Homo sapiens: one gene and its partners. The protein of the gene in region 1 purifies or fractionates together with the protein of each later gene. This does not show direct contact. Each region holds a gene or a part of one and is shown in the gene's direction. Other genes may lie near its edges. The genes, in order: PTPRO, PDIA6, MAN1B1 and DNAJC16.

Region 1 (7,541 bases):
TATAGTTAGCCAAAAAACCTAGTTATGAAGAAAAGCTAAATTAGTAAATGATAGCAATGTCTGGAACATTCAGAAAAAATATTTTAGAAGTTCATTAGTCAAGGCATTTCATATAAATAAAATATGAGATAAAATCATATAACTTAAGGCTAATGCCTTTTATTAAAGTTTTAGAGCAATTAAATGAAATGCTAGCAACAAACAGAATCCTAGTATATGACTGAATGAAGGTATAATATCTAAAAACACGACAATCTGCATTTCTAATGTAGGGCTGTTTATCCTATAGCCTGTAATTTGTGTCCAGTGATATATATCTGCATATCTGCTCACACTTTCTATGTATGTTTCCTTATTTCTTTAAGTATATAATTTTGTGTTGTAAGACATATCTTGTAATGCAATATTCTTATTTGATTTTCTTTAAGACATGTAAGAGTCAAGTACAAGTAAGATAGGTCTCTTAATAGGAATCTTTTGCGGCGGGAGAGGGGAATATAATGGGAAAAGACTCTCCAAGTAAAAGCAAAAATGACCTTCTTTAGCGTATTTCCACTGTTTTTCAAGTGCAGCAAGAGTAATAAGTCTTGGCAGTTGGAACATGCCATTCACCTGAGGGCTGTCAATCGTTCTCATTTTGAAAGACACAAAACTTATGAATTGTCAACACATCATTTAGGTGAGAAACCAGTGCTCATCAAGAGAAAAAATTAAAACAAATGCTCAAATAAATAGAAAATCAAAATGCTTCCTGGTCATTTTCTTCCAAGAGCTTAATACAGATAATCTACAGTTCATATGCTATAAAAATTGTAACATGTGAGATATGGACAACAAACTGAATGGCTATTACTTTTCCAATGGAATAGAGTCTAGAGAACAATTGCTTGAATTTTTCTTTCTATTCCATATAAAGTAAATTATTTGTCATTGAGCATCCCCCATAAATACAATTATCTAATACTGAAACTGCTGACAGCCTTGTAGGCTATTTCAGTAGTGGAAGCCAGGACTAAACACACTCAACTACATTAGAGGTTGTCCCTGGAGGACAGAATTGAGCTTCATTGGCAAGGGCACCGTAAGAGTTCCATTTGACTCCTCATTAAACCTCTCACAGGGATTCTAGCTGCTTCTCTGTGTCTGCGCTTGCTTTTCTATAGAAGAGATAGATGTGAACCACGTAGGCAAAGATACATTTCTACATATTTAGGAAAAGATCGCTTTTCTTGGTAAAAACTAAGCCTCCTATAGATTTTAAAAAGACCTTCCAGTTTCATGATCATTAACCACCTTTTTATAATTTTCAAAGGAAGTAGAGAGCTTTATTTCAATTTGTGAGAACTTATTTTTCAATGCTTGTTTTATGGCATGTCAGAGATATTATTATTTTTCTGTGTTTATTTTTTCTCCAGGAAAAGTAGCATTAGGGGAAAACAGTTGGTGATAATGATCTCAGCCTTCTTTACCTAACAATGTGGTTGTCATAATGAAATCTGGACCAATATGTAGAAGCAATTGGTGAAACATAAATTACTATATGCACTGTATGTTGCCCCTGGCTGTTTTGTTGATTTGGAGTCTTGAAAATAGCATAATAAGATTTATCATACTTTGGAAGTATTGTATTGAAAAACCAGTCAATAGCTCAAAGAAACACAAAACATGCTCTATGAATTGAAAACCCCACACTGTGGATGACACAGCATTCACATTCTTTATGAGAATCTCTTCTAGGACACTGTTATGGTTTAAGTGCAATAAAAACAAATGAAAGTATTTTATCCAGCAATAGCAATGTAAAATACTTTTCTCTAGAGAGGAAATTTTCTGTGATTATAAAATAATACTTTCAGTCTTCAGCCCATCTAACCACAATGTTACTAATAAAATAACAACAATGCCAATTACTAATGCTTTACTACTTACTGTTTACTGTTATTGTTCCTCCAAAGTGGTCCACATAATATATATATATATATATATATATATACATATATATATATATGCACAAAGACAGAAAGAGCTGAACAAATTGTGATGTATGACTAAGAGAAAAACAGAAAGACGCAGCAGAATATGATTATTTAAAAGGGAGCCTCATTGTGAAAGTTCTTTTAGCATTTACAAGATTAATTTATGATCAGAACTGCTTTAAACGCCCTACGCACATCAGGCAAGGCTATATCCATGTATACACACAGACATATGCATACACACAAATGAATATCATCATACAGACCCATAATTCACAGACACATTTTAAAATTAAATGCTACTCCAAAGAGAAATTGTTGGCATCCTGTGAGTGTGATTGTTGCCCTTGGCCTATATATATCTTATGTTCTAGAGATTAGATCACTTTACAGCCACTTCTGAGGGCGAGTGGGAATAAAATGCTGCTTCAGGAGCGTCAAAATAAAAAGAAAACATATTAAACCAAAGTTCCTATAAGTGCAATCCCAAGGATTAAATGTTCAGATAGCCCGTAAGTCTAACCCAGAGGGAGGGAGGAGCAGTTAACATTTTCTCAAAAGAAAGAAAATGTCCAAACCAATGATGAGTGGACATGAGGGACCTGAAGAGAGCATGTGATGGGAATGTGAAAACAAAAGAAGCTTCTAAAAGAAGACACCAAGGATAATATTCTCACAAAAATTCAGACCATCATTCTATATTTTCATGCATATGAATTTTGGTACATATTTCATGCATATGAAATTTGGTACATATATACATATATGTACCATGCATATACATATGCGTACATATACATATACGTATGCATACACATATGTATCTATGTACACACATACACATATGTGTACACACATATGTACATGCACACACATATGTGTACACATATGTACATGCACACACATGTGTGTACACATATGTACATGTACACATATGTGTACATGTACACATGTGTATATATACATATTCACACTTATGTAAACATATTCAATCTAAAGCTTCCTTAAGACACATACAAACAACAACCAAATGATTAGTGTTTGGCCATTGCTCATGCAGCAAAAGCTGAGTAAACACAGCTCTGGATCCTTTTCTCAGGCCACCACTCCCTAGCTGTGTGACTGACAAAGTCTATGCCTGAACACCTACATTCATGACCAGGGTGGCCTTTCCTGTCTCCTGTTGCCCAAGCATGTCTCAGGTATAAATAAGTTCCAATACTGACAGGGCACAGCAAGGGTAATTTACATGACAATAAGAAATGATTTCTATCTGAACAGTGCATACCAGAGTTGATTTCGACAGACTTATCTTTAAAAAAATACACATAACAAAAAAGGAGACAAGTAGTAGATTGGGGACCCACAGCTTGAAAGTCGTTGCTTGTGATTCTAAAACATCCCAGTAAAATTATTCACAGATAATTGTTTAAAAATATAACTGTACATACCGTTGACACTTGGACAACACAGAGAATCACGTAGTTGAAAATCCACATATAACTTTGAACTCATCAAAACCTTAACTACTAATAGCCTACTCTTGACCGGAAACCTTACTGATAACATAATAAACAGTTGATTAACACACATTTTGTGTTGTATGTATTGTATACTGTATTCTTACAATAAAGTACGCTAGAGAACAGAAAATATTATTAAGAAAACCATAAAGAGGAGAAAATACATTTATATTCATTGAGTGGAAGTGAATTATCATAAAAGTCTTTAACGTCATCCTTTTCAGGCTGAGCAGGCAGAGGAGGAGGAAGAGGGTTTGGTCTTGCTGTCTCAAGGCTGGCAAAGGTGGAAGAAAATCTGCATATAACTGGACCCAACAGTTCAAACCCGTGTTGTTCAAGGGTCATACATGTAAAATACTGTGATTTTTCCCCCTTCTATATTCAGCTTCAGGTGACCCGACACACTTTGGTATCAAAAGAGAATCTGAAATGTACAAGAACTGCGGATTTCAAATGGAAAAGGTGCATAATTGTGCTATTTGTTCCTGGGTGAGTGTGGGACGGAGACGGTGAGAGTGTTGAAATGGGATGGAGATAATGGAAGCAGTGGGGAAGGAGAGAAAATACCCTTCCTATCACACACACTCACACACTCACACTACACACTATTTCTACAGTCACAACTACCCAACTGTTATTGATCCTTTATAACTGCAATTGAGTACAGATGTAGGAAGATTGAGAGGGAACTGGGATCTGGCGCCTGGATTGCTCAAGAGAGGTCAGGGAAACCCCTCAGAACTCCTGAGACCCAGAGATTGAGGGAGGGGTTGAGGCGGAGTCTGCAATGGGGGCTGTCCAGCAGTAGCAAGCAGCGGGCCGATCCTGGTGGAGGGTTGGGAGGCTGCTGTCATTTTATGGGTCGGCAGCCAGAGTGAGAGTGTCCCTGCTGCCAGAGGACTACGGCGGGCTGGGCGCGGGGTCCCCGCCTCTCGCTCACCACACAGACCCCGCGCCTCCTCTGGCAGCCGCGGTGGTGGCGGCGGCAGAGCCTCGCCCACTCCAATCCCCACCCTCTCCATCCTTAGTCATTAAAGAACAGCAGCGCCTGGCACGTTCTTGGAGGACCCCGGGCGCAGAGGAGGAAAGGGAGCAGGCGCAGGGGGACTGGAAAGGCAGCATGCGCTCGCCAGGAGCAACCTCGGCGCCCAGGGTCTGAGGCTGCAGCCCCAGTTCGCCATTGTGAGCCGCCGCCGGGGGAGTCCGCTAGCGCAGCCGTGCCCCCGAGTCCCCGTCCGCGCAGCGATGGGGCACCTGCCCACGGGGATACACGGCGCCCGCCGCCTCCTGCCTCTGCTCTGGCTCTTTGTGCTGTTCAAGGTAGGGGAGCTCCTCCACCCCTTTTTCCCAGCGGTCCGGGCGGCAGCCGCGCTCCGGCGCCCTCGCTCTGCCGTTGGGAGCGGCGCGCCCCAGGGCACGATGGCCCAGCCGCGGGAAGCGCCTGCCGTGCAGCCTGGGCGCACGCTTTGTTGTCCTCGCGTGTGCGTGTTCCTGGTGGTCTTGAGAGGTAGGGGGCGGGGGGAAGAATAAGGGAAGTTTGCTCCCTCCGGCTTTCGCCCTTTGTGCTCTTTTATCGCTGCTGAAATCCACATCAAAGGTGGGCTTGTTGGATCGTGCTTTCTCAGGCAAAATGAGGTCACTTTCTTTTCTGGTTTCCACTGCACCCCAACGCTGCTTAACCTTTCCGCCCTCCCTCGCACAGAATGCTTTGTCTTAATTTTCCTTACTGCTGGAATTATACACTGGAGAGTGGAGGGGGACTGAGCTCCCTGGACACAAATGGACTGCCAGGGCTACGTTAGGGCAGAATTTTCTTTGAATAAGGAGTGTCAGGTAGAGAGCTTGGTAAGGATTCCTCTCCCCAACTCCTATCAACATCTTTACAATTCCTTTTAAAAAGTCTCCAGACTTTCTCCACTATATTTACAGATGATATTACCCCTAGATTTAATGGTGGAAAAATATATAATAATAAACTTTTTCGTATCTTCTTTGGAATGTGCTACCCTGAGGTTTTACTTTGAGAAAAATGAAAAGCAAAGGAGTTGCTTTTGAAAAATCAGTTTGACAACTATACTGTACATAAATTTTTTTGAAGAAATGTCAGCTAGATGTTTTCTTGGACGGCGATGTGAAGTTCTGAAGTGATTGTCTATCACTCATGTCTTCAGTGGATCTACTTTAGTTCTGTTGTTAGTCTTTTCCTCTCTCCGCAAAGCAAACTCAAGAATGTCGACAGGTGACTTGGAGCTATCCTTTCAGGACCACAGTGATACCTTCCCTAGAAATGGATGCCAGGTTAATGGATCCAAAGGTTTTCTTATTATAGAGTCACTTCTTGCTTATATGCACCATTAATTATGAATGCCTAAAAAGAATATAATGGAACAGGACCAATGGATTAAGAACAGCATTACTTTTAAATACTCCATATTTTCATTTATCTTAATGAAAAATATAAAAAAAATTCAGGGAGAAACAGCAACAGAATGCCTAAGTAAGACCTTAAAATATATTTAATATGTTTTAACATTTTTTCTTAAATTATCAATAATCATTAATTTTAAAGTATGGTAAATAATAAGCTCAGTTATATGTTTTTACTGTAGGAGGTTGTTCTTTCATACACATCATAAATGCATTAGACTTATTAGGTTGTCTATTAGTCGTTTTCTAACTATTTATCAAACTGTCACAACTATTTTACCTATGCAATAATTGTCATGAACCAAAAATTAGAAACCAAGTCACTATGCATTTTACGAGCAACAGCTAAGAGTTATATGTATGACATCTGATCCAAACCTAACGTTTAGCACAACTGCAGGTTTTTGCGTGAGTTCTTCATAATGAGATAATTCCAGAAATAAGAGAATGACTTGGTTGGGAGTGGGGGTAAGGTTTTGCAATTAAAATAAAATAAATGTGGCCATTGTTTGACTTAAAACTCGATATTGGAATGAGAAAATGCAGTTAGTGATGGTGTAATGAAAATGTTAGTGATTGTCATAGAGGTCCAGCCTGCTTCACATAATAGGTATATTCCTGAACATTGCAGGTAAATGTAAATTATGGCAAACTGCTTCCATAGTAAATACATTGGCAAAGTTTGCCATTTAAATAATAATTATTGTAGTGGGACACATAATTTTGTAAGAAAAATCATTTTCCTTTATTTTATGTGAATGTAATATTTTTGTCACCTGAATATAAACTATATCAGAGGAAAGAAGAAAAAACTGTATATATTAAATACCTTCTATGTGCTGGTTTTTTAGGCATTTTACATACGTTATTTCATTTAATCCTATTTTGCTGCAGTTGACAAGAGTTGTTCAAAAAAAATGGTAAATTGGGCACACAGTGTAATATCTTACATTTAGAGGATAGTATATTACATGGTGCGTTGGGCACATGGTATAATCTCTTTATAATTTGGAGATATTTTTGAATTAAAGGTCCTGATTAAGTGCCAGTAAAACAGATCTACTCAAGCAGGTTGTGACTGGAGGATGAGAAAAAATTCATTATTAAATACCAAACTGCTAACTGTATCTCAATAATAAAATCCAAAATGTTCCACGTGTGCCGAGTCAGAAATGAAACATTCTCTCAACTCTCCCTTGCCAAAATAATTTCCATAGTTTTCACTATAGTTAATACATTTTTCACTACTCCATATGTGTATCCTTTATATAAGAGTGAAAATTCTGAAGGAAAATAAGACAGAGAAATTCAAGTATGAGGCTTAATTTACAGCTTTACATTTTCCACAACTCAAAAATAAGCAGCTGGATATCAGTGGTGGAAAAGTAGGAAAGTTTGAATGTGTATGAATGGCTATAATCAGTTCCATTGAGGGAGACTAAATGTGACTGGCCAAGAAGGTCTTTGTGCCATCGTTCCTTATCCATGGAGCAGTGATGAGCACATATAATCGGGCATCTCAGACTGTCTAAATCATTCACTGCACATTATGAAGCTAATATCTGCATAATTTATCTTGCCTAAACACAATGTTGGTTATGAAAATTTTTATTTT
Region 2 (5,920 bases), on another chromosome or scaffold:
CTTTATCTTTACCTTTAAAAAACTTTGTCTATTTAAATCAGGAGCTGCAGGCAGAAATTCTTATCTGGAAGTTCTTCTGAAGTTGGCAGACAAATACAAAAAGAAAATGTGGGGGTAAGTTACTGAGCTTACTGTCTGAGTGTCATCTGAACAGCTGATTATAGGCTTTCTTGAGAGTGGTTCCCCCGTGTTTTTGTAAGCTGTGTTCTATGTTTGCTCTGCTATATGTTTTTTTTTTTTTTCCCTCCTGCCTCAGCCTCCCAAGTAGCTGGGATTATAGGCGCCCGCCACCACACCCAGCTAATTTTTGTATTTTTAGTAGGGTCAGGGTTTCACCATGTTGTCTAGGCTGGTCTCAAAACTCCTGACCTCAAGTGATCCACCTGCCTCCACCTCCCAAAGTCCTGGGATTACAGGTGTAAGCCACCGCACCCGGCCTGCTCTGCTATATGTTTTTATTCAGGATGTGAAAACTTTATCATGGGAGGAAAAGAAGGAATGAAGGGCTGTCAGCACAGCATGCATTTTTCTCATAGGAATCATGTTTTACATGGTGATTGGAGTGCCAGGTTAGCAGGCAGACACATAAGGAGTAGTGCACCTGAATTCTACTGTGAACTTGAAGGCTGGGTGAGAAAGGGGAAATAGAATTGTTTCCTTCTCCTCTTCTGAGTTAAGGACTGGATCTAGGCACATTTTCAAAACAGTGTATCTCTTTCCTATTTTATCCTTTTTTTTTTTTTTTGAGACAGAGTCTCACTCTCTTGCCCAGGGTGGAGTGCAGTGGCACAATCTCGGCTTACTGCAACCTCCGCCTCCCGGGTTCAAAAGATCCTCCTGCCTTAGCCTCCTGCGTAGCTGGGACTACAGGCGCACGCCACCATGCCCGGCTAATTTTTGTGATTTTAGTAGAGATGGGGTTTGCACCATATTGGTCAGGCTGGTCTCGAACTCCTGACCTCAGGTGATCCACCTATCTTGGCCTCCCAAAGTGCTGGGATCACAGGCGTGAGCCACCGTGCCCAGCCTCCTTCCTATTTATCTTTTTGCTTCTTGTCCTCAGTATCCATTGCTTTCCCCAGGTACCTAGCGCCCCCTGTTGTCCCTCTCTCGATGACCTTGCTCCTCCTCCATTAGTCCAGCAAATGTTTATTAGATGCCTACAGAACGCGAGAACATGCTTAATAACCCAAATGATATTGGTGGGATTTCAGGTAAAAAGGGAAAATCCATATAGAAACTCATCTTTTGTTTTTATTTGTCATTCTACGAAATATCTGAAGCGTGATCTTTTGTTCTCTAAGATCTTCTAGTTAGATCGTAAGCAATTTAAAAGACATATTTGCCCTAAAAACCAGTCTGGTTTTCTAGGTGGCTGTGGACAGAAGCTGGAGCCCAGTCTGAACTTGAGACCGCGTTGGGGATTGGAGGGTTTGGGTACCCCGCCATGGCCGCCATCAATGCACGCAAGATGAAATTTGCTCTGCTAAAAGGCTCCTTCAGTGAGCAAGGCATCAACGAGTTTCTCAGGTAATTTGTTTTCTTAGGTTGTTTGTTGTTTTGTCTGTTTGTTTGGTTCTGTTGTAGGTTTATATTTGGAACTAGGTATATATAAGCCAGGTAATAAATGGAATTTAAAATGCAAACTAATTCCAGAGAATTGAATGTTTATACATTAGAGTTTTTAAATTGTCTCCCTGTTCGTTCTTTTTTCCATGGAATACTCTGCTTGCGGGATGAGGAGAAAGCATTGCTACCCTCGGGCCGCCCTGTGTGCCATTCTGTGCATCTGGCCCTGGGCTCTTTCTCATTCTCATAAAGGTCTCATATGGGCTAGAGGCAGCCCTGTCTGTCCATCCTCACCCTCATATGCATTGTAATCTTGACCTTGGGGAAATGTGGTTTCCATTTCTGGGCACTTGGCTTTGGAATGTAGTTATTTATTTGAAAATGGGCGTACTTAAGTTACTCCAACAATGTGCAAACAACATGATAGGTTCTAAAACCAATATACAGAGCTGTCTACTCTGCTCTGCTATTCAGCTCACCTAATCATCTTTTAGGCAATACAGGGCATTGACCTAAAGAGGTTTTATTTCCCATTCTTGCTTTCTTCCGCGTTCATTTCTTAGCTGCTGTATAAGAGATGTTCAGCACACAAAAGGTAGTTGAGAGGCTTGTGTTGAATAATGAATAGGAAGAACAGTACATGAAAGCCTGCAGTGCTCTTGCTGCCAGTCTTCCTACTTGACACAGAAGTTTGTGTGCTGTGTGGAGACGTGTGTGTGTGCTGTGTGGAGAGTAGGGGCTCCAAAGTCAGGTGCCTCAGTCACAGCTCTGCCTTGAGTAGTGAAGTGGGAGGCATGGAGGAAGCCCTGTGAGATCAGCTGCTTCAGCCTCTGCCGGCGGGGGGCAGACTGTGGCTCCTTCCCTCCCAGCTCTCTCTCATTGTAGTTGGTTAATATGGTTAATGGGTGTTTTCTTTCCCCCCCACCCCCGAGACAGAGTCTTGCTGTGTCGTCCGGGCTGGCACGATCTCGGCTCACTGCAACCTCCACCTCCCGGGTTCAAGTGATTCTCCTGCCTCAGCCTCCTGAGTAGCTGGGATTACAGGCGCCTGCCACCACGCCCAGCTAATTTTTGTATTTTTAGTAGAGATGGGTTTTCACCAGGTTGGCCAGGCGGGTCTCAAACCCCTGACCTCAAGTGATCCACCCACCTCAGCCTCCCAAAATGCTGGGATTACAGGTGTGAGCCACCACGCCTGGCCAAGGGGGTGTTTTCATTAAGTTTGTGGGGCTGGGTGCGGTGGCTCACGCCTGTAATTCCAACACTTTGGGAGTCTGAGGCAGGCGGATCACTTGAGGCCAGGAGTTCGAGACCAGGCTGGCCACCACGGTGAGACCTTATGTCTACTAAAAATACAAAAAATAGGCCAGGTGTGGTGTTGTAGGCCTGCAGTCCTAGCTACTAGGGAGGCTGAGGCACACCCAGGAGGTGGACGTTGCAGTGAGCTGAGATCACACCACTGCACTCCAGCCTGGGCAAAAGAGTGTGACTTGGTCTCAAAGAAAAAGAAGTTTGTGGACTGCTTAAGTTTGTGATTGTCATAGAGTAGTATTTATTAAATCATGAAGTCAGAATGTGAATATATCTCCTGTAATTTTTTTTTCTAATAATAGGTTTGCTTATTCTAGCCCATTGGTGCCATAGATTGTTAGTCTAGCTCTATTATTCTATGAGTTGTTTGGTGAACTCTAAATATTTGTGCCCACAGTATTTCTGGCTCTGGTTTCCCAACAGCCAGATTACACCAGGTCTGGTATGTTTCAAGTACTGATGTTTATGCACATACGCACCCCGCTCTCTGCCAGCGCACTGGAACCAGTCGCCTCACTTCTGATATGCTCCCTCTGTACAGGTTCACAGCAGTCTTAGAAAGCTCGCAGGCAGCCCATGTTCTAGATCAACTTTGATAATTATTTATGTATTTAATTTGTATTTCAGCAAATGCTCTGCTATTTTTAAAAGCTTACTGATAGCAACTGACTTTATCTGATGCAGGGGGCTTAGTTGGGAATGTTGAATCTGGTTGTAATGTTGTCCGTGATTAAAAAGATAATGTCCTCAAGGTGTTTCTGAGGAATGTAGTGCAGCAAGAGAGAAGAAATGCCTCTGCATAAACAAAGTAGGCAGACTGTTATTTTTAAAGTTGTTTATTCTTCTGCACCAGCAGTCCATTGTAAATGTGTGTGTGTGTTTTGGTCATTTTTCCCTAAGGGAGCTCTCTTTTGGGCGTGGCTCCACGGCACCTGTAGGAGGCGGGGCTTTCCCTACCATCGTTGAGAGAGAGCCTTGGGACGGCAGGGATGGCGAGGTGAGTGCCCGGGAGGGAAGCTGTGCGGGCAGCAGTCCTGGTTTACTCTCTTGAGCCTGTGCATCTCTGCACCTGGAGTCAAGTCCTTCCCATCAGACCTCAGCCCTGGTGCACCCGTGGGCCTTTTAAGAGGTTCTTCTCTGAAGACCCTTCATCTTCCTTATCACAAGTTTAAGTGCTGCATGGCATTTGATACTCTTGACAGCCAAGATACATTTCAGTAGTAAGGTTGCTTTCCTGATTATTACCTTAAAGTGAACATTTAACCTGGAATTCATTTACTTTATCTTAGAAAAATAGAAAATGATAGCTTTGAAATTAGCACTTATTTCTGTACTGTTGTGTCCCACCCTCCTCAAAAGGACACGTTCAAGTGGCTTCCAGTGTTAAAATGGTGAGTGATGTGATGTTGAAATGTTTCACCTGAGTTCTGAGCTTTTCCATCCGTATAATCATAGGTACGAAGGTCAGGGTAGGAGTCAGACTGAGGAGAACCTGGATTGTAGCAGGAGTAGCTCCAGAGAGTCGCTCTTCCATAAAATGAGATGTTGACCTTCCAGGGTGTCCCCTTCTGCAGATCTAACAGTGGCTTTCTGTCGTCTCCCAGCTTCCCGTGGAGGATGACATTGACCTCAGTGATGTGGAGCTTGATGACTTAGGGAAAGATGAGTTGTGAGAGCCACAACAGAGGCTTCAGACCATTTTCTTTTCTTGGGAGCCAGTGGATTTTTCCAGCAGTGAAGGGACATTCTCTACACTCAGATGACTCTACCAGTGGCCTTTTAACCAAGAAGTAGTACTTGATTGGTCATTTGAAAACACTGCAACAGTGAACTTTTGCATCTCAAGAAAACATTGAAAAATTCTATGAATTGTTGTAGCCGGTGAATTGAGTCGTATTCTGTCACATAATATTTTGAAGAAAACTTGGCTGTCGAAACATTTTTCTCTCTGACTGCTGCTTGAATGTTCTTGGAGGCTGTTTCTTATGTATGGGTTTTTTTTAATGTGATCCCTTCATTTGAATATTAATGGCTTTTTCCATTAAAGAATAAAATATTTTGGACAATGCCGATAAATGTATGAAGTTAGTATCCACATCATAAATTCAGAGTGATGTTTAGCAGTAAATCAATATTTTGAAGTGATACACAGATGTCTTTCCTCCCCACAAACTTTTTTAAACAAAAAACAAGACCTCTTTTCTTTAGATGGTGCCACCTATGCCCACCACAACAGAGATTTTACATGGAAACCGGGCTCAGTGAGAACTGATTTCCTGCCCAATATTTGTCTTTGGGCTGTCTCTAGTGACTAATTATTAAGGAATCTAGCTGGTTATACAGTTCAAGGCTTTCTATGTTGTTAATGAACCTCAAAATAGCCGTTAAGACATGAAATACAGCAGCAGGTTACCAATGCGAACAGGTAGTTCGCATTTATGTAAAACATTCAGAAAATGAAGTTTTGAATTTGTTGGAACATTCAAAGGACTTGAGAGCATTTTATTGTAACTTAAAAAAATAAATACAACTGTCACTAACTTTTGTGAGCAATTTCTCTGAAAAAGATCTTAGTTCTGTAAGACATTTGAACCATTCTCTGGCTAAAGGAAAGAGGTGTCTGTAATAATCTGCACGAACATGAGACAGAGGTGCCAGCTGGCCTTTCTAGTCAAGAAGACTAAGGTCAATATGGAAGTAGACATAAGGAAAATAGTCTTGGTTATTGAGTTGCAGTCCCGGGATCTCCACAGATGCCTACAAAAGAAGACATGGTAATGCTCTAAGTGCATAAACTAGTTTCCTGTCTTATCCTTTTAGTTTTGAGGAAGCTCGCCAGGCACTGAGCGTACGTTCTGCTCTGCGTAGCTGTGGTCCACCCCTCCAACCCTCTCCTTGCTGTGCTTTAATGTGTATGACATGTAGATTTTCATAACAGGCTGACAGATAGTTTTGCTTTGTTTTGTTTTTGAGACAGTTTCTGTCACCCAGGCTGGACTCAGCTCACTGCCTGCCTCAGACTCCCAAGTAGCTGGGATTA
Region 3 (7,025 bases), on another chromosome or scaffold:
TGTGCAGGAGTGGCCTGAGACAAGCGCTGTCCGCCGTGAGAGATGGGCTCCGAAGAAACGGGCCCAGAGGCCCTGAACTCAAGCGCGTGGTGAGAGGCGTGGACATGTGCATGTGAGGGGTCCTCACGGCCAGGAGGAGAATTTGAGGGCCACTGTGCTCTAGTTAGCGTTGGCATGAATGCAAGGACGCTTTACTTCCAGAGCAAAAGAGGATTTGACCTCAGCTTGTCAAAAGTGCCACGTTTGTACTCCCAGCATGTAAGCCATCTGTGGTTGTAAGAGGCCTTTTGCTGATCCTGGGACAGATTCACCACAGGGCCCCAAGAGAACGCTCGGGCCCAGCCACAGTTAGGAGGTTGCGCGGCAAACCCTCTACACAACCTCATAGCTGTTCCTGATGGCCATTGGACAGAACTCGATGGGGAGTTTGAGTGGCCATGCGTCTCGTGTGTAGGGACAGCCCCCGTCTGTGTGGCCATCCTGGCATCTTGGGGCCACCTCACTGTCACTAGTGCTCCTGTTTGGATGAAAGATTCTCTACTCCTCCACCATAGAGGCCCCCCGCCTCCGGCCTCTGCAGAGGGATTTCTCACGATTCTCCAAGCTCTGGTCTCTGACCTCAGGCCAGCCTTGACCCTGGAGCAGTGCTGTGGTCTTGGCTCTCAGGCACGGGAGCTCAGGACTGAACTGTGTGTTTCCTGCCACTCAGCAGCCTGCACCTCAGGATGATGGGGCCGCTTTGGGTGCAGGGCTGTGCCTTGGCCGTGGGTATGGAGCGTGGGGGTGGGAAACATGGAGCCACAAATGTTTGACGGCAGCTGACACCCTTCCTTCTCCCCCGAAGCTGGAGGGGAGCGGTGATCGAGCCTGAGCAGGGCACCGAGCTCCCTTCAAGAAGAGCAGAAGTGCCCACCAAGCCTCCCCTGCCACCGGCCAGGACACAGGGCACACCAGGTGAGGCCACACCTGCACCCCTTCCTCCCCGGGCGCTCAGGGGCTGGTGGCTGATGGGTGCAGGCTTCGTCTCAGCCATGGTGGGTGGCGCCCCCGCCCTGGTGTGCACCTTGCCCTTCAGCATCCCCCTGTTGTCTGAGTCCTCACAGGCTCTGCAACCTTGGTGACACCATGTGGCTCTTGGCCTGCTGTCCCTGAGCACATGGCTGCAGAAGAAGGTGTGTCTGAGAGGTTTGTGTCTGGGCCAGGCTGCCCCACGGGATCCCTGGAGACTGCTGCCCGTGCTGTGTCCCCTGTCTCGGCCTGGCCAGTCCCAGGCAGCTCTGGGGGCCACTTCATTCTCAGCACCGTTTGTTGGGGGCCTCCCAGGTGCGGGCCTTCGGCCAAGCTCAGTGCATGACCTGAGGCCTCTTTCAACCTCATGACACCCTCTGACACGATAAGCCACTCACCCTCCCGTTCTCCAGACTGAAAAGCAGGGCTGAGGACAGCCACCCCCAGAGTCGTTTGCTTGTCTGTGGGGGCTCATGGCAGGTCGCTGAGTCTGGAGCCCTGCTCTCATCATGCCCCCCAGGTGTCTCTGAGGTGGGGAGGGAGCCCAGAGCCAGGACTCCCAGCCCCGGGCCTGTGAGGGATGTGTAGCAATCTCTGCGGCATCAATGAGGGCAGAGGCAGAGGCAGAGGCATAGACATGCCATGAGCACAAGGAGGCCTCAGAACCTTTCCTGAGAGGACGTGTGGTTTGGTGCCGTTACACACGTGTCAATCCACACATTAGTCAATGTTGGCCGGGCGTGGTGGCTCACACTTGTAATCCCAGCACTTTGGGAGGCTGAGGTAGAAGGATCTCTTGAGTCCAGGAGTTCAAGACCAGCCTGGACAACACAGTGAGGCCCCATCTCTACAAAAAAAAAAGAAATTTATATATATGTGTATATTTGAGACAGAGTCTTGCTTTGTCACTTCACTGCAACGTCTGCCTTCTGGGTTCAAGCAAGTCTCCTGCCTCAGCCTCCCTAGTAGCTGGGATTATAGGCACCCGCCACCACACCTGGCTAATTTTTGTATTTTTAGTAGAGACGGGGTTTCGCGATGTTGGCGAGGCTGGTCTCAAACTTCTGACCTCAGGTGATCTGCCCACCTCGGCCTCCCAGAGTACTGGGATTACAGGCGGGAGCCACCGTGCCCAGCCAAAAAAATTTAAAAAAAGGGAACGAAGGGACTGTAGCGCGTGTGCACAGTGCGATTCCCGTGGAGCACCTGAAGCCCACGTGGCAGAAGGAGCGTGTTTGAGTCGAGGATGTTCATCGCGAGGTCTGCACCCGTCCGTGTTTCACATTCTGAGTTGGCACCACACTCACCCACGTCTCCACAGGCTGTGCTCACTGTGCTGTCCCAGCGCCCTTGGGGCAGCCACCCTTGTCCCTTTGGCCAGAGGCCACCGAGGCCCAAGGAGGGTGTGCCTGCCCAGGCGCCAGGTGGAGGTGCATGGGCCCCAGTCAGGTGGTCGGGTGACAGGTGCCATCCTGTGCAGTCTCCAGAGGTCTCAGGCCCTTGGCAGGCTGTGTTCTCCCTGGGGGCTGCTGCAGCCTCTGTGGCCCTGGCCTTTGCTGTGCCCACCACCGCCCTTCCCGTCGTCCCAAACCCACCGTCATCTTTGCCCCATGGGGGTCACAGCAGTGCTCTGCCTGAGGGTGTCCATCTGTGCCGACGCCAGGACCACGTCCGCCATGGCCTGTGCTCTCTCCCCCCTACTAGTGCATCTGAACTATCGCCAGAAGGGCGTGATTGACGTCTTCCTGCATGCATGGAAAGGATACCGCAAGTTTGCATGGGGCCATGACGAGCTGAAGCCTGTGTCCAGGTCCTTCAGTGAGTGGTTTGGCCTCGGTCTCACACTGATCGACGCGCTGGACACCATGTGGATCTTGGGTCTGAGGAAAGGTACCTGGTGCTTTCTGGGGAGGGGCTGAGCCCTCCGTGTGGGCCTCGTGTGCTGAGGCAGAGTGTGGGTTGCACACGGGGTGAAAGCTGCTGTTTGCATCTGACCATGGGTTTTCCCTTCTCCTGGGTGCGGGAGTGGACGTGTTGGCTGTGGTCAGTTCCTGTTCTTGTCCAGCCACCCAAGGCACACACAGGGCCGCTGTCCCCAGACCTCTGCAGGAGTTGAGTGTGGACTCTTTGGGGGACGTCCAAGGGACATTCCCAGGCTGTGCTTCTCTTGCAGCTGGGGGTGGTGGGATGAGTGACTGTGGGGCCCCGCTGGTCCCAGATCTCAGCAGCATCCTTCATAGACCAGCACATCCACTTTGAATTGGGAGTATGTGTCTTCGGTTATTTAAGCGATAATTTAAACATTTGCCTAATTTTTTGAATAGGTTGAAGACCACCAGTAAACGACGTGTGTAATTTTTTTGGGTCGTAGCCTTTGGTTGTGACCCATTGGTGGCCATAGCAACTGCACTGCTGACTCCGTTTTATTAACAAATGTTGACGACTTCAAGATTTACCCCCTTGAGATAGGAGGTGATATTGAAGCCCTGCAGGGGAACGATAACGCCCCAGACATGGGTTTGGTTTTTTGTTTTTGTTTTTTTGTTTTTGAGATGGAGTCTTTCACTGTCTCCTGGGCTGGAGTGCAATGGCGCAATCTCGGCTCATTGCAACCTTGGCCTCCTGGTTTCAAACGTGGGTTTTTTGGAGACAGAGTCTAGTGGTGTGGCCCAGGCTGGAGTGCAGTGGCACGATCTCAGTTCACTGCAGCCTTCGCCTCCCGGGTTCAAGCTATTCTCATGCCTCACCCTCCCCAGTAGTTGGGACCACAGGCATGCGCCACCATACTCAGCTAATTTTTGTGTTTTTAGTAGAGATGGGGTTTTCCCATGTTGTCCAGGCTGGTCTCTAACTCCTGGGCTCAAGCAATCCACTTGCCTCAGCCTCCCAAAGTGCTGGGATTACAGGCATGAGCCACCACGCCCAGCCAAATGTATTTTGAAGATGGATAGATAATAGGAAAACGTTGGAGCCATCCATTTGTCTCTGCATCCTTTACTGTTTTATGTCATAGAATTTGAGGAAGCCAGGAAGTGGGTGTCGAAGAAGTTACACTTTGAAAAGGACGTGGACGTCAACCTGTTTGAGAGCACGATCCGCATCCTGGGGGGGCTCCTGAGTGCCTACCACCTGTCTGGGGACAGCCTCTTCCTGAGGAAAGCTGTAAGTGTCTTGGGGTGTCCTGCAGGGAGATGGTGGACTCGCATTCAAGCAGTTACCCCTTTAGTGGACTTGTGGGGACGTGACTGTCTTCCTGTTTCCTCTTCAAATGCACTGGAGTCTGTTTCTGAGCTCATATTCGTGAGCTGATGAAGCCACTTTGATCACCACTGGCCTTGTAGAGACATTCACTCAGTGCAGAGTGATGCCCGTTTCCTTGCTGCTGTGTTGACCCCAGAGAGCCTTCAGTGTCTCCACTGAACTGCATGAAAGGGTGTAGACGAGGCCTCTGGGTGACCTGAACGTTGGTTCTCTACTCTGCTCATATACCAGGAGGATTTTGGAAATCGGCTAATGCCTGCCTTCAGAACACCATCCAAGATTCCTTACTCGGATGTGAACATCGGTACTGGAGTTGCCCACCCGCCACGGTGGACCTCCGACAGCACTGTGGCCGAGGTGACCAGCATTCAGCTGGAGTTCCGGGAGCTCTCCCGTCTCACAGGGGATAAGAAGTTTCAGGTAAGGGGGCAGGCTTTCTGGCTGGATGCGCCTCCCCTGGAGCTACCTTTTGCTCATCACAGCAGGTACTGTGTGTGTGTGTGTATGTGCATGTGTGTTTTCAGGTTTTTTACTGTGATAAAACACACAAAACGCACCACCTTAACCATTTCCAGGCGTGGTCGGTGGTGTTACATTCACGCTGTTGCAGGCGTGCAGGTCGGTGGTGTTACACACATTCACACTGTTGCAGGCGTGCAGGTCGGTGGTGTTACACACATTTGGGCTGTTGCAGGCGTACAGGTCAGTGGTGTTACACACATGCTGTTGCAGGAGTACAGGTCGGTGGTGTTACACACATTCATGCTGTTGCAGGCGTGCAGGTTGGTGCTGTTACACACATGCTGTTGCAGGAGTACAGGTCGGTGGTGTTACATGCTGTTGCAGGCGTGCAGGTCGGTGGTGTTACATTCACGCTGTTGCAGGCGTGCAGGTCGGTGCTGTTACACACATTCCTGCTGTTGCAGGAGTACAGGTCGGTGGTGTTACACGTGCTGTTGCAGGTGTGCAGGTCGGTGGTGGTACACACATTCATGCTGTTGCAGGAGTATAGGTCGGTGGTGTTACACACATTCACTGTTGCAGGCGTGCAGGTCGGTGGTGTTACACATTCACGCTGTTGCAGGCGTGCAGGTCGGTGGTGTTACATTCACGCTGTTGCAGACGTGCAGGTCAGTGCTGTTACACACGCTGTTGCAGGCGTGCAGGTTGGTGGTGTTACATTCACACTGTTGCAGGCGTGCAGGTCGGTGGTGTTACACACATTCATTCTGTTGCAGGCGTGCAGGTCAGTGTTACACACATTCACGCTGTTGCAGGCGTGCAGGTCGGTGGTGTTACACACATTCACGCTGTTGCAGATGTGCAGGTCGGTGCTGTTACATTCACGCTGTTGCAAGCGTGCAGGTCGGTGGTGTTACATTCACGCTGTTGCTGGCGTGCAGGTCGGTGGTGTTACACACATTCACACTGTTGCAGACATGCAGGTCGGTGCTGTTACACACATTCATGCTGTTGCAGGCGTGCAGGTCGGTGGTGTTACATTCACACTTGCAGGCGTGCAGGTCGGTGGTGTTACACACATTCATGCTGTTGCAGGCGTGCAGGTCGGTGGTGTTACACACATTCACACTGTTGCAGGCGTGCAGGTCGGTGGTGTTACATTCATGCTGTTGCAGGCGTGCAGGTCAGTGGTGTTACACACATTCACGCTGTTGCAGGCATGCAGGTCGGTGGTGTTACACACATTCACGCTTTTGCAGGCGTGCAGGTCGGTGGTCTTACATTCATACTGTTGCAGGCGTGCAGGTCGGTGGTGTTACATTCACACTGTTGCAGGCGTGCAGGTTGGTGTTACACACATTCACACTTGCAGGCGTGCAGGTCGGTGGTGTTACACACATGCTGTTGCAGGCGTGCAGGTCGGTGGTGTTACATTCACACTGTTGCAGGCGTGCAGGTCGGTGGTACACACATTCACACTGTTGCAGGCGTGCAGGTCGGTGGTGTTACACACATTCATGGTGTTGCAGGCGTGCAGGTCGGTGTTACACACATGCTGTTGCAGGCGTGCAGGTCGGTGGTACATTCATGCTGTTGCAGGCGTGCAGGTCGGTGGTGTTACACATTTTCACGCTGTTGCAGACGTGCAGGTCAGTGGTGTTACATTCATGCTGTTGCAGGCGTGCAGGTCGGTGGTGTTACATTCACGCTGGTGCAGGCATGCAGGTCGGTGGTGTTACACACAACGCTGTTGCAGGCGTGCAGGTCAGTGGTACACACATTCACGCTATTGCAGGCGTGCAGGCCGGTGGTGTTACATTCACGCTGTTGCAGGCGTGCAGGTTGGTGTTACACACATTCACACTTGCAGGCGTGCGGGTCGGTGGTGTTACACACATTCATGCTGTTGCAGGCGTGCAGGTCGGTGTTACACACATTCACACTTGCAGGCGTGCAGGTCGGTGGTGTTACACACATTCACACTGTTGCAGGCGTGCAGGTCCGTGGTGTTACACACATGCTGTTGCAGGCGTGCAGGTCGGTGGTGTTACATTCACACTGTTGCAGGTGTGCAGGTTGGTGTTACACACATTCACACTGTTGCAGGCTTGCAGGTCGGTGGTGTTACACACATTCACACTTGCAGGCGTGCAGGTCAGTGGTGTTACACACATTCATGCTGTTGCAGGCATGCAGGTCGGTAGTGTTACACATTCATGCTGTTGCAGGCGTGCAGGTCGGTGGTGTTGCACATTCATGCTGTTGCAGGCATGCAGGTCGGTGGTGTTACATTC
Region 4 (7,924 bases), on another chromosome or scaffold:
GGGAACAGCACAGACCTACAGTGCCACTGAGAAGGTAAGTCTCACTAGCAGAACAGTTGGCTACATGCAAATAGATGGTGGTGTTTAGGTTTCTCTCCACATTTGCTGAACACTCCAGGAGGTCAACACTGTGTTAAATGCATTGTTTCATCTTTTTCTCCCTCAATAACTTTATAGAGTTAAATTAGAACTTCCCAACTTTTTAGGGTAAAAAATTTCAGGGAAACTGAGTCATAGGGTTTTTCTGTTTGTTTGGCTCATTGGTTGTGGTTTTTTACAACTTGCTAATATGTAACAAGGCCAGGATGAGAGCCCAGATCCAACTGGTTCCAAAACCTGCCTGTTTTTCAGCCATACTGAATGGCAAAATGGCAACCTGTGGTTCCCACAAGGTTCTTAAAAAATTTCTGAATTTGTTGCTAACATTTTAAGCCAGGGAATTTGACAGAGGAATCAAGATTTTCAGCTTCTTTTTTAAGATGTGAAAGCTGGGCCGGGTACAGTGGCTCACACCTGTAATCCCAACACTGAGGCAGGAGAATCACTTGAGGCCAAGAGTTTGAGACTCATCTAGGCAACATAGCAAGACTCCTATCTGTACAAAAAAAAAATTTTTTTTAATTAGCCAGGCATGGTGGCATGTGCCTAAAGTCCCAGCTGCTCTAAAGGCTGAGGCAGGAAGACCACTTAAGCCCAGGAGGTCAAGGTCGCAGTGAGCCATGATCTCATCCCTGCACTCCAGGCTGGGCAAGAGTGAGACCCTGCCTCAAAATAAGTGTAAGATGTGGCAATACTGGGCCATTTGTTGATATGGCCATACTCAGCTGGAGACGGAGGGCAGTGCAAAGGCTATCCACTATGACGCCCATCCATTGGTCCTCCATGGGCATTTGAGTTTGTGATCCCCGTGAACATTCCTGAAGGCAAGGACTGTGGCCTCAAACCATTACTGTTCCCCAGTAGGGGCCACACAGAAGGCACAAAACTTATTTTATTATTAATGAATAATTACTCATATGATACTCAATTATTTAAAGACTCTTTCCCTGGGCCAGGGCACTGGCCAGGGATATCCAGCCAGCCACTCACACCTACTGCACCTCATGGTAGGAAATATCTCCTGCATCCTCACAGGCCTGTGATGAGGGTCAAATGAGACAAAGATGGGAAAGTGCTTTTAAACAAAACCTCAAATGTTTGACTTCATTATTCTCCATTCTGCATCAGGTCCCCTCATTTCCAAAACCTCTTAACAAAACATAAACTGAACACAGAAGGGGCTGGCCAAAGAGGGCAGGGTACGCTGATCCCCCGCTCTGTGCCTAGCACTACAGTTTCACATCCGTTATTTCATTTAGTCCTTATGACAGTATTATTCTTATTCCCATTTCACAGCCCAGAAACTGTGGCTCAAAGAGGGTAAGTGACTGGCCCAAGAACACGCTGCCAGGCAGCCTGATGCCAAAGTGGGTTCCCGAAACCTCTATGCTAGAAAAGTAAAAACGCACACGCCTCCTTCCTCGCAAGTATTAACGTAAATTAAAATGGAGACCAACCATGAAGAATTCCTGAGCAGACAAAACCAATCAGGTATCCTAAGTGACCTAAATCTTGCTTAAACTGCAAACATAAGCAAAATTTAACTTGGGTCATATCTGATAAATGCTTATGTTAGAGAGAAATAAAACTTAAGACCAGCCAAAAGCAGTCAATTAACAGACCTTAAAAAAAAAAGGCAATTTTGTAACTGCAAACCAATCAAATAATTTCTTTATTTTGCTTCCACATTTTCCCAATAAATACTTGCCTCTGACGTTTTGTCATTGCAACACTAAAGCTCTTTCAGTCTGATGTTCTCCAATTCATGAATTGTTTCTTATTCAAAGTTCTCAAGATGTGTCTCACATTTTTCCTTTACACAAGAAACACAAGCACTAACAGTGTACGCTGACTGAGTATGGCATGGAATCGCTTTAGCGAACACCCGACTAAGAGGTGTTTGGGATTCTTTGGCTCCGCTGAGGGGTTTGAAGCCACAGGGAAGGCTAGGCTCCCGCACAACGCCTCCTCGAGGGGCGTGGGGACCCGGCCGTGCAGCGCGGGGACAGGGGGCCGGGGGCGCACCTGGATGTCCTCGATCATATGGGGCCTGAACAGCTCGCGGCTCAGCAGGGCGTCCCAGAGCTGGTCCACCTGCAGCTCTTCCACCAGCCGCAGCCGGCACCGCCGCAGGAGCCGCCGATCCGCTTCGTCCATGGCGAGTAGCCAACTAAGACTCCAGGCCGCCTCAGTCCGCTTCCGGGCCTCGGCCGCCCGCCCCAGTCCCCAGGACCCGCCCCCGCCCCAGGGCCTGCCCCCGCGTCACGGCCCCGGGTCAGTCTTCGCTCCCCACCGCCTCCGGACGCATCTCCAAGGCCTCGCCCCGCCCCCAGGAGTCGCTCTTGCGTCACCGCCCCGCCCTCAGGACGCACCTCTGCGCCTCGCCCCGCCCCCAGGGCCAAGCCTCCCATCACCGCGCCGCCCCAGAACACGCTCCGCGTCACCGCCCCGCCCCAGAACCCGCCCCACGTCACCGCCCCGCTCCAGAATCCACCACTGCGTCCCCGCCCCAGAACCCGCCCCGTATCCCCGCACTGACCTCACGTCACCGCCCCGCCCCCGCGTTACCGTCCCGCCCGCAGGACGCATCTCCAACGCCTCGCCCCGCCCCAAGGATTCGCTCTTGCGTCACCGCCTCGCCTTCAGGACGCCTCCGCGCCTCGCCCTGTCCCCAGGGTCAATTCTGGGGTCACCGCCTGTCCCCAGAACCTGCCACCGCGTCACCGCCCACTCCCCGGGACGCATCTAGAAGGTCTCGCCCCGCCCCCAGGATTCGCTCTGCGTCATCGCCCCGCCCTCAGGACGCACCTCAGCGCCTCGCGCCGACCCCAGAATCCATTCCGCGCCACCGCCCCGCCCCCAGGATTCAACCCACGCCCCCACCCCGCCCCCAAGGTCAATCTTGCGCCACCGCCCCGCCCCCAAGGGCTAGCCTCGTGCCACCGCCCCGCCTCCAAGAGCCAATCCCCTCCCCTCGCTCCACCCTCAGAATCGTCCTTGCGTCACCGCTCAGCCTCAGACTCCAGTTCGCACTCTCGCCCCGCCCCCAAAGTCAATCCTCACCCCCAGGATCCATCCTTCTGTCACCGCCCCGCCCCAAGGCGGCACCTCCGCGACTCGCCCCGCCCCCAGGGCCCCGCCCCGCCCCCGCATCACCTCCCCACTCCGGGCGCAGGTGCCCTTTTGCAATTCTGGCACCAGTTCCTGGTCCACCGCGGGCCCTTCGCCAGAATTCACTATAGCCCCGCTTTTACAGAGATCCGGAGGGAGTCGTCACACTTCCAGCAAGAGGGAAACCATGAGTGGAGCCGTGATCTGTCCCGCCCATTCAACCTCCTCCGGGGCATGGCTTCCCCTTAGCCCCCTCCTCCACCCCAAGTAAAACCATAAGCTCCCCTCACCGCCCTTGTGCCCAGATCGCAGTTGACTGTTCCAAACTCGAGTGTCTGATCCAACCAAGCCCACCTTACACAGTCTTCCATTCCCTCTTCCCTCCCTCCCACCCTAACACCTCCCACACAGAAAAAAAAAAAAACGGCAGAAATCTAGTCCTGTAAACTCCCATCGTTCTGAACGGTTCATTTTCACATTTCAAAAATAATCGTTTCTGTTTACTGAGCATTTGCTAAGTCCCAGGCATCGTGCTAGCCACTTTTCATGCTTATTTCACTTATCCTTAACTACAATCCTGCCAGGAAAGTATTCCCACCCCCCGCCGGTTTTACAGATGTAGACCCTAGGGTTCAGGGAAACGAATGTTTAAGGTCACTTGGGTACTAAGTGGCCGAGGCAGGCAGGATTGAAACCCGAACCTGACTCTGTAAGCCACACTCTTAAGAATCCACCTTAGAATATAATCTCTTGAGCACCAAAACCTCAGCCCCATTCGTTCACTTCTACGAATATTTATTGAGCCTGTAGTCAAACACTAAGAACATGAAGGTGAACAAAACAAAATCCCTGCTTTTAGAGTTTACATTCCAGTGGAAGGATCAGGTGATAAACTATATCAATAAATAAGACATACTATGTTAGATAGTGATAAATGCAAAGAGAAAAAAATAAAAACAAGACAGGGAGATATGAAAGCTCTTTATATCCGCAAGGGATCTATCTCATTGGCTCAAAGAAAGTTTCCTTCACTTACCTGTGCCTTATCCCTCTCTCCACCCCCACCGCCCTTTCCCCGTGCTTAAGGCACAGACTGGTACATTCTTGGGTGGAGCTCGGTTTTCGGTAAACGGGATTAAAAGTCCTGGATTCTCTCAAAAAAAAAAAAGATAAGTAAACAAAAATAAAAGGAATGCTGGATTCTAGGCCTTGGGCAAATCTCTGCCCCTCTCTGGACCTCGGTCTCCCTATCAATATTGCAGGAGTTGGAGAGTTAAAGAATCCCTAAGGTCACTTCCAATCTGACGCTCTAAGGTTCTACGAATAGGGTTAAAGAGAATAGGGACCAGAGAGTGCGTCCCCATCCTAGCAACTGTTGCTAGACGAGGGCCATCTCCCGGTAGGAGCGGAAACACCTTCCTGGATCGAGGAGGTCCTTCTGGTATCCCATCATGCATAGCGACTTCGCCTCGCTAGGAGGCACGTTTTGGCCTCTTTGGTCACGATCAGCCTTTTGGCTGCAACCAAAGAGCGCGCCTCGTTTCTATAGCAACCACCCCAGGTCCACGCCTAGACGGCGAGTGGCAAGGGTCAAAATAGATTCGCCCAGTAGACGCCCTCGACCTGTTCGGTCCTCGCCTTCAGTGCGATAGACCTTTAAGCGTCACGTGACTCCCCTCGGGCTTGTCCCCTCCTCTTTCCCCTCCCCAGGCCCAGGCGAGCGCTGGTGTGGACGGGAAGCTCCCGGCCCGGCGAACTAACTGGAGCACGGAGCTGCAGCCGGTTGGGCCGGTGTACTTTCCCGGTAACTCCTTCCCGGCGTGACGCGCGGAACCGCGGACGCGGCGGGGCCAGGCCGACTCAGGGATTTCCCCTCAGTTCCTTCTCGTTTCCAGTCACTGCTGGCCCCGGGGGGAGCCGGGAGCCAACAGGGCCGGGCCCTGGGCTCTCGGAGGGCGGCGGGGGAGGGGGCTGTCTCCTGCAGGGTTGCGACCTCCGGCAGGAGCGCGAGGCGGGGCTTAGACCTGGAGCTTGTCTCTGGGAGCTTCTTCCTGGTCCTGGATATGCTGCCCAGAGAGCTGGCAGCCTACCTGTTGGGCAGGTGTTTGCTGCTCCGAGGTCGGCGCCGTCTATCTCGCATGTCAGCTAAAGAACTTCCCAGACCACCGCCACTTCGGCCCTCTAGCTGGAAGGAACTGACATGGTTAAATAAGGCAGCGATCGTACTGCATGGTAGAAATAATAGCACTAACGACCATTTGTTGACTGTTGACTCTGGGCTCAGTAAACCCTTTACATGCATTTAGTCCCCACATGATGATCCTTCAAGGTGGTAGTATTCATTCCCATTTTATGAATAAGGACGCTGATGCTTAGTAAGTTTAAATAATTTGCCCAAGGTAATAAAGTAGTGGAGAATAGATCCTAGTCTTCAACCCATATGCTTAACCAGTAGCTACATTGCCTTCACGTGTTTTCTAGGATATAATAGGTTGCCTTAACAAAGAAGAAACTGGTTTGTTTTAGGATTTTATTCAGCACGTATGCAATTTTAAACGTTGGTCATCAGATTAGTCAATTTTGTGAGGACTCCCAGGCGGCATTAAACTTGCACTTACGGAAATCCACCACTGTTATAGCTTTGCCCTTCTTCAGTAAGGTGTCACAGAAGACACTTGAACCTTAAAACTGTATTAACTTGTGAGAAATCAAGATAAATGTGTTCCTTGAAAAAAAACATTGTAGGGTATAACAGCAATCATAATTGTGGAGTATAAATATCTGCAGTTCCAGCACTACCCTGTTCATTAACCAGCCAGGATTATTTCCAAAATTCACAATGAATTAAGTCACTGTACTCACCAGAGATGGAGCTTGAAACTTTTAAAGACCACGCCTGCTATTTGGTCTTTGCCGTTAATTCTTCTTCACATGTAAAACTAAATTTTTTCTTGCCGCTTTTTCTCATCTGAGGTTTCCATTAATAATGACCATATTGGCCGGCGCGATGGCTCACGCCTGTAATCCCAACACTTTGGGAGGCCGAGGCGGGTGGATCACCTGAGGTCAGGAGTTCAAAACCAGCCTGGCCAACATGGTGAAACCCTGTCTCTACTAAAAATACAAAAAATTAGCTAGGCAGGGTGGCGCATGCCTGTAATCCCAGCTACTGGGGAGGCTGAGACAGGAGACTTGCTTGAACCTGGGAGGGGGAGGTTGCAGTGAGCTGAGATCCCATCATTGCACTCCAGCCTGGGCAACGAGTGAAACTCCGTCTCAAAAAAAAAAAACAAAAAAACACCATATTACTAATGATTAAAGAGCAGCTTCTCATTTTCTTGTTTGAATGGTGTGGTGAGAAAGAATAGAATTGAGGCATACTGCGTCTTAACTACACAGTTTTTTGAGAGTGTTTCACGTCCATGTTTGTACTTATTTAATGCCCAAGAATGCCACAACTATCTCATTTTGTAGTTTTGTACATGGTAAATCTTACAGTTTCATGAGTTTGTTTAACATGTACTCAATGAAGTATTCTTAAACCATTTATTTTATTTATTCTTATCAGAATAAATGAAATCATGTATTTGAGAGGTAGTCGTCCTGATTATCCTATTTAGGTTTTCTCTCATTTATGTATTATTTCTGCATCCCATTCATTTTCATTCATTTCTAAAGCTTTTCTAGTCAAAGTGTTCTGGAGAGTTGCTATTCTTATTACTCATCTTTTCATCTGTAATAGTTCTCATTTGTGATATTCAAAAGCAGTAGCGAGATTTTTATTTTAAGATACAGTTCAACAGCTTGACACTTTTCCTGCAAAATACCTTTTGTTGGTTTTGTTTTTCATCTATATATCTTATACCTTTACCTAAAAAGCAAGACTGTCCAGGTTTCTGCCACTGAAACTCATTGCCTCTTCAATCATTTCAGCTCTGGAAAGGAAGAGAAATGGAAGTGAGAAAGTTGAGCATTTCCTGGCAGTTCTTGATAGTTCTGGTTCTGATCCTGCAAATTCTGTCTGCGTTGGATTTTGACCCATACAGAGTCCTAGGGGTCAGCCGAACAGCCAGTCAGGCTGATATTAAAAAGGCTTATAAGAAGCTCGCCCGGGAATGGTAGGTGAAACAAAGAAATAGAGGTTTAACATAAGCTAAACAGTCTTAGCAGGGATGAAGTCTAAATTATGACTAGCTTTTATTTGTCTCTGTTTCTATGTTCAATATATATATCTGTCTAAAATATTTTACGCAGGAGAGCTAATGTTCATGTTCTATAATTGTTAGCGATAAGATCCAAAGCCTATGTTTACTCTGAAACTCCCTTTTAGGAATACTTTGGCTTAAAGAATTGCCTTAGATACTGTTAGCATATTTAATGTTAAAGTAACAAGTTTTAATTTTAAAAAAATGTATATATAGTCAATAATGGATATGCTACCCTTCCCATGATACATTATTCATAAAGTAACTTTATGAGTGTAATTGCTAAACAGGAACACTATACAACCCTATTCTCTAAATTATTAATTTCTACACTTTGAAAAAAAGTTAAGAGTAATAGCCTTTTGCCTCCAAAAAAAAAAATTCAGAAACCAAGGATAGTTGTCTCTTGATATCCATGAGGTCTTGGTTCCAGGATCCCCAGAAATACCAAAGTCATTGGATGCTCAAGTCCCTATATAAAATAGCATAGTATTTGCATATAATCTATG

Evidence for each region.
Region 2: the proteins of PTPRO (region 1) and PDIA6 purify together in Homo sapiens (affinity purification with mass spectrometry, with the first as the bait; 2 studies listed by BioGRID). This does not show direct contact.
Region 3: the proteins of PTPRO (region 1) and MAN1B1 purify together in Homo sapiens (affinity purification with mass spectrometry, with the first as the bait; 2 studies listed by BioGRID). This does not show direct contact.
Region 4: the proteins of PTPRO (region 1) and DNAJC16 purify together in Homo sapiens (affinity purification with mass spectrometry, with the first as the bait; 2 studies listed by BioGRID). This does not show direct contact.

Annotation. Positions count from the first base shown.
Region 1 is NC_000012.12:15,317,983-15,325,523, forward strand, and holds the start of PTPRO (receptor-type tyrosine-protein phosphatase O isoform a precursor), read left to right. Parts: upstream 1-4,525; 5' UTR 4,526-4,744; coding exon 4,745-4,819; exon of another isoform or gene 4,820-5,867; intron 5,868-7,541.
Region 2 is NC_000002.12:10,782,891-10,788,810, reverse strand, and holds the end of PDIA6 (protein disulfide-isomerase A6 isoform d precursor), read left to right. Parts: intron 1-41; coding exon 42-114; intron 115-1,371; coding exon 1,372-1,530; intron 1,531-3,700; exon of another isoform or gene 3,701-3,780; coding exon 3,781-3,877; exon of another isoform or gene 3,878-4,484; coding exon 4,485-4,553; 3' UTR 4,554-5,420; downstream 5,421-5,920. UniProt on the Homo sapiens protein: May function as a chaperone that inhibits aggregation of misfolded proteins. Negatively regulates the unfolded protein response (UPR) through binding to UPR sensors such as ERN1, which in turn inactivates ERN1 signaling.
Region 3 is NC_000009.12:137,096,984-137,104,008, forward strand, and holds part of MAN1B1 (endoplasmic reticulum mannosyl-oligosaccharide 1,2-alpha-mannosidase), read left to right. Parts: intron 1-844; coding exon 845-954; intron 955-2,712; coding exon 2,713-2,898; intron 2,899-4,021; coding exon 4,022-4,170; intron 4,171-4,500; coding exon 4,501-4,689; intron 4,690-4,695; exon of another isoform or gene 4,696-4,773; coding exon of another isoform or gene 4,774-7,025. Other genes in the region: uncharacterized protein LOC124902313, read left to right, coding at 4,774-5,756, 5,793-7,025. UniProt on the Homo sapiens protein: Involved in glycoprotein quality control targeting of misfolded glycoproteins for degradation.
Region 4 is NC_000001.11:15,521,945-15,529,868, forward strand, and holds the start of DNAJC16 (dnaJ homolog subfamily C member 16 isoform 1 precursor), read left to right. Parts: upstream 1-4,903; 5' UTR 4,904-5,014; intron 5,015-7,143; 5' UTR 7,144-7,161; coding exon 7,162-7,328; intron 7,329-7,924. Other genes in the region: CASP9 (caspase-9), read right to left, coding at 2,125-2,256. UniProt on the Homo sapiens protein: Plays an important role in regulating the size of autophagosomes during the formation process.